2 linked regions of the Homo sapiens genome follow. The protein of the gene in region 2 interacts with the protein of the main gene of each other region in a pairwise test. Each region holds a gene or a part of one and is shown on either strand. Other genes may lie near its edges. The genes, in order: SLC25A17 and ABCD1.

Evidence for each region.
Region 1: the proteins of ABCD1 (region 2) and SLC25A17 come close enough for resonance energy transfer, tested with the Homo sapiens proteins (one large-scale study listed by BioGRID).

The regions. Positions count from the first base shown.
Region 1 is NC_000022.11:40,774,332-40,778,145, forward strand, and holds part of SLC25A17 (peroxisomal membrane protein PMP34), read right to left. Parts: intron 3,043-3,814; coding exon 2,897-3,042; intron 2,805-2,896; coding exon 2,709-2,804; intron 1-2,708.
Region 2 is NC_000023.11:153,727,774-153,731,587, reverse strand, and holds part of ABCD1 (ATP-binding cassette sub-family D member 1), read right to left. Parts: intron 2,357-3,814; coding exon 2,176-2,356; intron 1-2,175. UniProt on the Homo sapiens protein: ATP-dependent transporter of the ATP-binding cassette (ABC) family involved in the transport of very long chain fatty acid (VLCFA)-CoA from the cytosol to the peroxisome lumen.

The sequences.
Region 1 (3,814 bases), on a different chromosome or scaffold from region 2:
TCCTGCCTCAGCCTCCCGAGTAGTTGGGATTATAGACATGTACCACCACGCCCGGCTAATTTTTGTATTTTTAGCAGAGATGTGGTTTCACCATGTTGGCCAGGCTGGTCTCGAATTCCTGACCTCAAATGATCCACCCACCTCGGCCTCCCGAAGTTCTGGGATTACAGGCATGAGCCACCATGTCCGGCCTAAGAAAAATTTTTCAATGAAGCAAGCATAATAATTTTCATTTTATAGAGAGGTATAGGGAAAATTCTACCTCAAAAGAAAAAAATATGCCCAGGATGATGATTTAGATATTGATGGTAATAACTTCCACTTCTTTAAGAAATTCTGAGAAATGAATCATTTAGAACATCTGCAGTCTAAGCTCTTCAGATTATGTGTTTACATTATAAAAGTGTTAAAATACATTTATAAGGATGCTACTGAATTCCCTTATGTTAAGTACCAATTTTAAAATAATATATTAGTAAAAATGCTTTTAACAGAAGGTACTAATTTTTCTGAACTGGAATATTCTCACTACCACCCCTATTTTATCTAGCAACAAGCCTTTTGAAATTTTTCTCCAAAACAGATCTTGAATCTGTCCTCATCCTACCCCTCTCCTCTCCAGTGCCACCACCGTGGTCCAGGCCACCATCCTCTCTTGCCTGTATTACTGAAATGGCCTCCTACTAGATTGCCCCTGGCTTTCTCTCTTAGCTTTCTGACCAATTCACCACATAATAGCCACAACAGTCTTCTTCAATTGTAAATCACAGCACATATTCCCCAGCTTAAAGCCCTTCCCATCACATATTCTCAGCTTAAAGTGCTGAGGATAAAAATCTACATTCCTCACCTACAGTTTCCCTGCTGCTCTTGCAATCTCACCCTGAGCCACTCTACTGCCATAGAGGCCTTCTTTCAGTCCCTAGGATACACCAAATTCTTAGTACATTGATATGGTTTGGCTGTGTCCCCATCCAAATCTCACCTTGAATTGTAATAATCCCCACAAGTCAAGGGCAGGGCCAGGTGGAGATAACTAAATCATGGGGGTGGTTTCCCCTATACTGTTCTTGTGGTAGTGAATAAGTCTCATGAGATCTGATGGTTTTTTTTTTTTTTTTTTTTTTTTTTTTTTTTTTTTTTGAGACGGAGTCTCGCTCTGTCGCCCAGGCCGGACTGCGGACTGCAGTGGCGCAATCTCGGCTCACTGCAAGCTCCGCTTCCCGGGTTCACGCCATTCTCCTGCCTCAGCCTCCCGAGTAGCTGGGACTACAGGCGCCCGCCACCGCGCCCGGCTAATTTTTTGTATTTTTAGTAGAGACGGGGTTTCACCTTGTTAGCCAGGATGGTCTCGATCTCCTGACCTCATGATCCACCCGCCTCGGCCTCCCAAAGTGCTGGGATTACAGGCGTGAGCCACCGCGCCCAACCGATCTGATGGTTTTATAGGAGGAGTTCCCCCTGCACTTGTCCTTGCTGCCGCCATGTGAAGAAGGACATGTTTGCTTCCCCTTCCACCATGATTGTAAGTTTCCTGAGGCCCCCCAGCCATGCTGAAATGTGAGTCAATTAAACCTCTTTCCTTTATAAATTACCCAGTCTCAGGCAGTCCTTTAGAGCAGCATGAGAATGGACTAACACACACATCATGCTCCCCCTGCCTGGAATGCACTTTCGTCCACTCTGCCCCACTAGGGCCTTACCCTCCTTTGCATCTTGATTTAAATATTCCTTCTCAAAGAAGCCCACCTCCAATCATGCTATCTAAGAAGAGCCCCACCATGCCCCTCTCCAGTAAATAATTTCCTTTATAGTTCTTTTTTCAATTTGTAATTACCTATTTATTTTGCTTGTTTACCTGTTCATTCTCTCTTCCACTAGCTCCATAAGGGCAGGGATTATGACTTTTATTTACCACTGCATGCCCAGGTCCTCCCACAGTGTGGATGCTTAGTAAATATTTGAATGGATAAATAACTGAATGAAATAAAAAACAGAAGTTTGAGAGTGCTTCAAAAAAGCTAAATCATTCATTCCTCCTGAGTGAACTAAAGGAATTAACCTCTGACTTTGTAAAGGATAATCCCTGCTGGGGCACCAAACCAATCAACTTGAATGAGAAGGAAGCAAACTTATGCTTTCCTGAGGTCTTTAAGGAACTTGTCTCCACATCTGTGTTTTCTGAGACATTATGTTACCTAAGAAATTACAAATGCAAACTTCATTCTAAACCAATGACAGCCAGCCTAGTTAAGCAGAATATCAAACAAATGAAAAAATGGGGGCCAGGCACAATGGTTCATGCCTATAATCCCAGCACTTTGGAAGGCCAAGGTGGGAGGATCGCTTGAGTCCAGGACTTTGAGACAAGCCTGGAAAACATGGTGAGACCCCATCTTCACACAAAAAAATTTTAAATTAGCTGGACAAGGTGGTGTATGTAGTCTCAGCTACTTGGGCAGCTGAGGCAGGAGGACTGCTTGAACCTAGGAGGTCGAGGGTATAGAGACCCATGGTGCACCACGGTACTCCAACCTGGGTGACAGAGGGAGATCCTGTCTCAAAAAAAGAAAAGAAAAAAAACAGATAGGGAATATTCTGGTATACCAACTAACTGCTTTATTGCTTTATTAACATTGTTTTAAATCAAGAGACTACATGTATTCGAATGCTGTTTGACTAAATGCGAAGAGAACTCCAGCACTCACCCTCAGAATTGACTGTACCGTCTGCAGGGGATAGGTCACCGTGGTGGCAATCGCTTTGGCTACTGCACCAATGATGAACACATCCAAGGAAGAAAGCTGGAAAGCAAAGGAAGAACAAACCATATCAATCAAGTCAACAAGAAGGTGTCAGACAGAATTATTTTACTGCTTTCAAAATCAAGGATTACCTTCATCCGTTTCTTTAAAAGCTGCCGTTTTAAACCTTCATAAAACATGAACTGGATGGCAGGATTGAAGACCAACAGCAATGAGGGAAATGTGCCATTCCATAAAGCCGAGATTCCTTCATCGCGAATGATCTGATGAAAAGCATCTAAGCAAGAAATCAGGGACTTTTGAAAAGCATGATCACAATCCCCCAACTAGAGAAGACAACATGAATTCTGTTGAAATGTACCCAGAACACAAACCATACTGGTTCTATAAAGATTTCCTTCTTGCAGCCGGTTGCAATGGCTCACGCCTGTAGTCCCAGCACTTTGGGAGGCCGAGGCGGGTGGATCACGAGGTCAGGAGTTTGAGACCAGCCCAGCCAGCATGGTGAAACCCTGTCTCTACTAAAAATACAAAAATTAGCTAGGTGTGGCGGTGCATACCTGTAATCTCAGCTACTTGGGGGGCTGAGGCAGGAGAATTGCTTGAACCCGGGAGGCAGAGGTTGCAGTGAGCCAAGATTGTGCCACTGCACTCCAGCCTGGGTGACAGAGCAAGACTCCATTTCCAAAAAAAAAAAAAAAAAGATTTCTTTCTTGCAATGATAGTTTGGGGTCAAGTTTATCGGTTAATTACTTTTTGATAATCAGACATTGACAGTCACCAAGTTATTGAGAGACCAACTTCAATCACAGGCAACTGTTCCTGATGATCGAATCCTCCTAAGTCATTATCACCATCACTGGGAATTCTGGATTACACAGAACTGTGAACTGAGCCCACATATTTCACAAAAAAGTCCAGCACAAGAAAAGATAAGATCGTTTCCTAGAATTTATTATACAGGATTTGACTTTTAAAAACCACTATTTCACTACAAAGATTGATGTATGGGAAAGGAGAACCTGGCAATGTGGTACTATTGAAAGGCA
Region 2 (3,814 bases):
ACAGGAAAAAAGAATGAGAGTCAGGCAATATCTGAAAAGCTAATAGCTGAGAATCTTCCAGAATGATTGAAAAACTCAAATATTCAAAGGACATATAACAAGTCTCAAGCAGAATCAACAAAAACTGACACCTAAACATGTCATAGTGAAACTGCAGAATGCCAAAAAGAAAGAAAGTGATCAAAGTACCCAGAAAAAAAGAAACACAGGGTACTCAGGGAGGACAATTTGTTAGCAGCTACAGATTTGTCAGCAGCTACAGAAGAAGCAGGGAGACAATGAGACATTGTGAAAGGGCTGAGAGAAAAGAACAGTCCACCTAGACTCCATTGCGCAACTCAACTTTAGCTTGGGAATAAGGGTGAAATAGAAACATTTTCAACAAAAATAATCAAGAATGACAACAGCCTGGGTGTGGTGGCTCACGTCTGTAATCCCAGCACTTTGAGAGGCTAATGCGGGAGGACCGCTTGAGCCCAGGAGTTCCACACTAGCCTGGGCAACACAGCGAGAACCTGCCTCTACAAAAAACAAACAAACAAACAAAAAACTAAACAACACAAAGAATTACAATAAAATAATCAAGAATTTCCCATGACAAAACCCTTGCTGAAAGAACCTTTTTTAAAAACCAACCACAACTAGAAGCACTGATGACTGTTTGTCCTGAGCATAGTTGTGAGTTAAAAAACAAACAAACAAAAAACTAAAAACATGTCTATCTGGAGGAAGATAACAGAACATAGAAGAGAAATTGAGATGTAGGAACGAAATGGTGAGCACAGAACTCAGCAAACATGCGAGTGAGTTTCAACACGTGTGGATAAGGCGATAGCAAAGAGGAAAAACTAGGTACAAATCCAACTCTTGGCTGGGCTATGATGCCATGCCCCACGGGGCTGCTTCTGCGTTCTAAGGTCCAGGAGAAGGCGGAGCTATTGATTAACCTAACAAGTATGCGTGTTGATCTTTTATTTTTTATTTTTATTTTTATTTGAGACGAAGTCTCGTTCTTTCGCCCAGGCTGGAGTGCAGTGGCGCTATCTGGGCTCACTGCCAGCTCCGCCTCCCGGGTTCACGCCATTCTTCTGCCTCAGCGTCCCGAGTAGCTGGGACTATAGGCGCCCGCCACCGCGCCCGGCTAAATTTTTGTATTTTTAGTAGAGATGGGGTTTCACCCTGTTAGCCAGGATGGTCTCGACCTCCTGACCTCGTGATCTGCCCGCCTCACCCTCCCAAAGTGCTGGGATGCCAGGCGGGAGCCCCCGCGCCCGGCTGCGTGTTGACCTTTTAAAGGGTGACCACTAATGGACTAAAAATCAAATGCAGAAGTTGCAATCCGGCAGAGGAACAAAACAGGAATGCAGGCCGGGCGCGGCAGCTCACACCTGTAATCCCAGCACTTTGGGAGGCTGAGGCGGGAGGATCACCTGACCAGGAGTTCGAGACCAGTCTGGGCAACATGGCGAAACCCTGTCTCTACCAAAAATATTAAAATTAGCCAGGTACGGCGGCTTGTGCCTGTAGTCCCAGCGACTGGGGAGACTGAAGTGGGAGGACCACTTGAGCCTGGGAAGTTGAGGCTGCAGTGAGCCAAGGTCGCGCCACTGCACTCCAGCCTGGGCGACAGTCAGACTCCTGTTTCAAAAGCCAAAAAGAAAATAAAACAAACAAACAAAAACAACAGGAATGCAGAAACCTAAACATTTAATCTTATCACTAAAATAACAGGTAGAACAGGCTTCCCACTCCTCTAAAACACCTTAGGGTGCAAGAGCTGTTTCAGGGCGAGGAAACCAAGGCTGGAGTGATGAAGGGGCTCACTCCAGGTACTCCGCACATTCTCCCACCTCTAAGTCGCAGTTGGGTTGAGGACAGGGACAGGTGGGTGAGGGTATCTGTGCCTGGAGAAGTGACATGTAGTGTTCCTGACTTGCAGTCCTGGGCTTGTCTGAGTGGTAACAAAGGGCGTGAGGTGCGCGCAGGGCAAAAGGCAACAAGGAGGGGCAAGGCGAGCTCAACCTCTGAAAGCATCAAGGCTGGCAGCAGGGCCTCGGTGGCCCCGGCAGCAGAAGTGGGCGGCGGGCTGGCTGAGTTGGGCCCTCGTGAGCTCAGCACCCAGCGGTATGGGGGACAGGCCCCTGGCCTGGATCCTCTTGGAGCCCTGGGTCTCACCTGACTCTGAGTAGCCAGTGGCAGTGATGATGGGGACAGCCACCATGAGCAGGCCCGAGGCGCTCCACACATACTTCATGAGGAACTGCTCCAGCATAACATACCACAGGCGTTCCAGAAGGATGAGGTTGATCTGCGAGGCCAGGTCCTGGTAGGAGCGCTGTAGCAGGGCCAGCTCCACCTGCGGGGGGTGACAGACACAGAGAGGCTTCCTGGCCATGCACAGGGGCAGCTCCCGTGGGGGCGATGGTCAGGGTCTCCCAGTGCCACTCACACACGCTGTGCCATGGTGGCCATCAGAAGGCCGAGAGCCAGAGGTTACGATTGGGTGGGGCCAGGTCTCAAACTCAAGGTGTAAGGGGGTATAAGGGACTGGCTGATGTCACAGTGCGGCTCCCGTCCCCTCTCCACTCCCTCTCTAGTCACCTTGTTTCTGTCCTCTGCTGAGCCCATTTCTTTGGGCTCCCTGCCAGCCCCCTCCTCCTGGCTCGGAGAGATCATCCATCAGCTCTAATTTCCCCCCCTAAACTAAGCAAAGAGCAGCGCAGGACAGCAAAAGGCAGTGCTCTTGGGCTGAGTGCAGTAGCTCACACCTGCAATCCCAGCACTTTGAGAGGCTGAGGTGGGAGGATTGCCTGAGCCCAGGAGTTGGAGACCAGCCTGGCCAACACGGCGAGATGCTGTCTCTACCAAAAATAATTAAAAAAAAAAATTAGCCAGGTGTGGTGGCACACACCTGTAGTCCCAGCTACTCGGGAGGCTGAGGTGGGAGGATCGCGGGAGCCCTGGAGTTTGAAGCTGCAGTGATGGCGCCACTGCACCCCAGCCTGGGCAGCACAGTGAAACCCTGTCTCTTGGTTCTGAAAAACTCGGTTCAACAGTCTGGGCCTATTTACGCCCTCTTTCCCCTCAACTTTCCCACACTTCCTTTTGGTGAGAAATTTGCATGGCATTTTCCCACTGAAACCAGGAGGATGCGCTCCTGAGCTGGGCCCTACAGGACTCGCCCCAGTGGATGTCCCCACTGCTGAGCCTGGACCTTGCTCCCTCAGCAGTGGGTAGGCCTCCCCTGTCCTTCTGTCCCCCTTCCTGCACTGGCCACCACTATGTCAGGACACCAGCAGGTGGGGAAAGGGACAGCCGCAGGGAAGAGGTGGCAGCAGCAGTCAGACAGGCGGGGGAGATGGGAGGTGTTGGGAAGTGCTCCCAGCAAGGTAGCCAAGGGGTTGTGAATTTCTGGGCTCAGTCCAGGGGCACGCACCCCAGCCTTGCCTCCCCACAGCCGTCTGATGACAGCTGCCTAGCCTGCCACTGTTTGCCAAGTGCTTTCACGTCTCTGCATTTGATTCTCCCCACATCCCACTGCATGTGTATTCACGTGCCCACTGTACACAGAACACTGAAGCCCAGGGAGGCAAAGTGACCTGCCCAAGCCCATACAGCCTGATGGTGGCAACCAGTGTGGGAATTTGGACCACACTGGCAGAGCTGCCAGAAGAACCACATTCTTGTAAATGATGCTTAGACTTATCAAGAGAGCTTTACTTTGTTCTCAAACAAGAGATCGTGTGCATGTGCGTTTCAATAAGCCTCCTCGCGGCAATCCCAGAAAGGACAGAATACTCTGCTATGTGCCCTC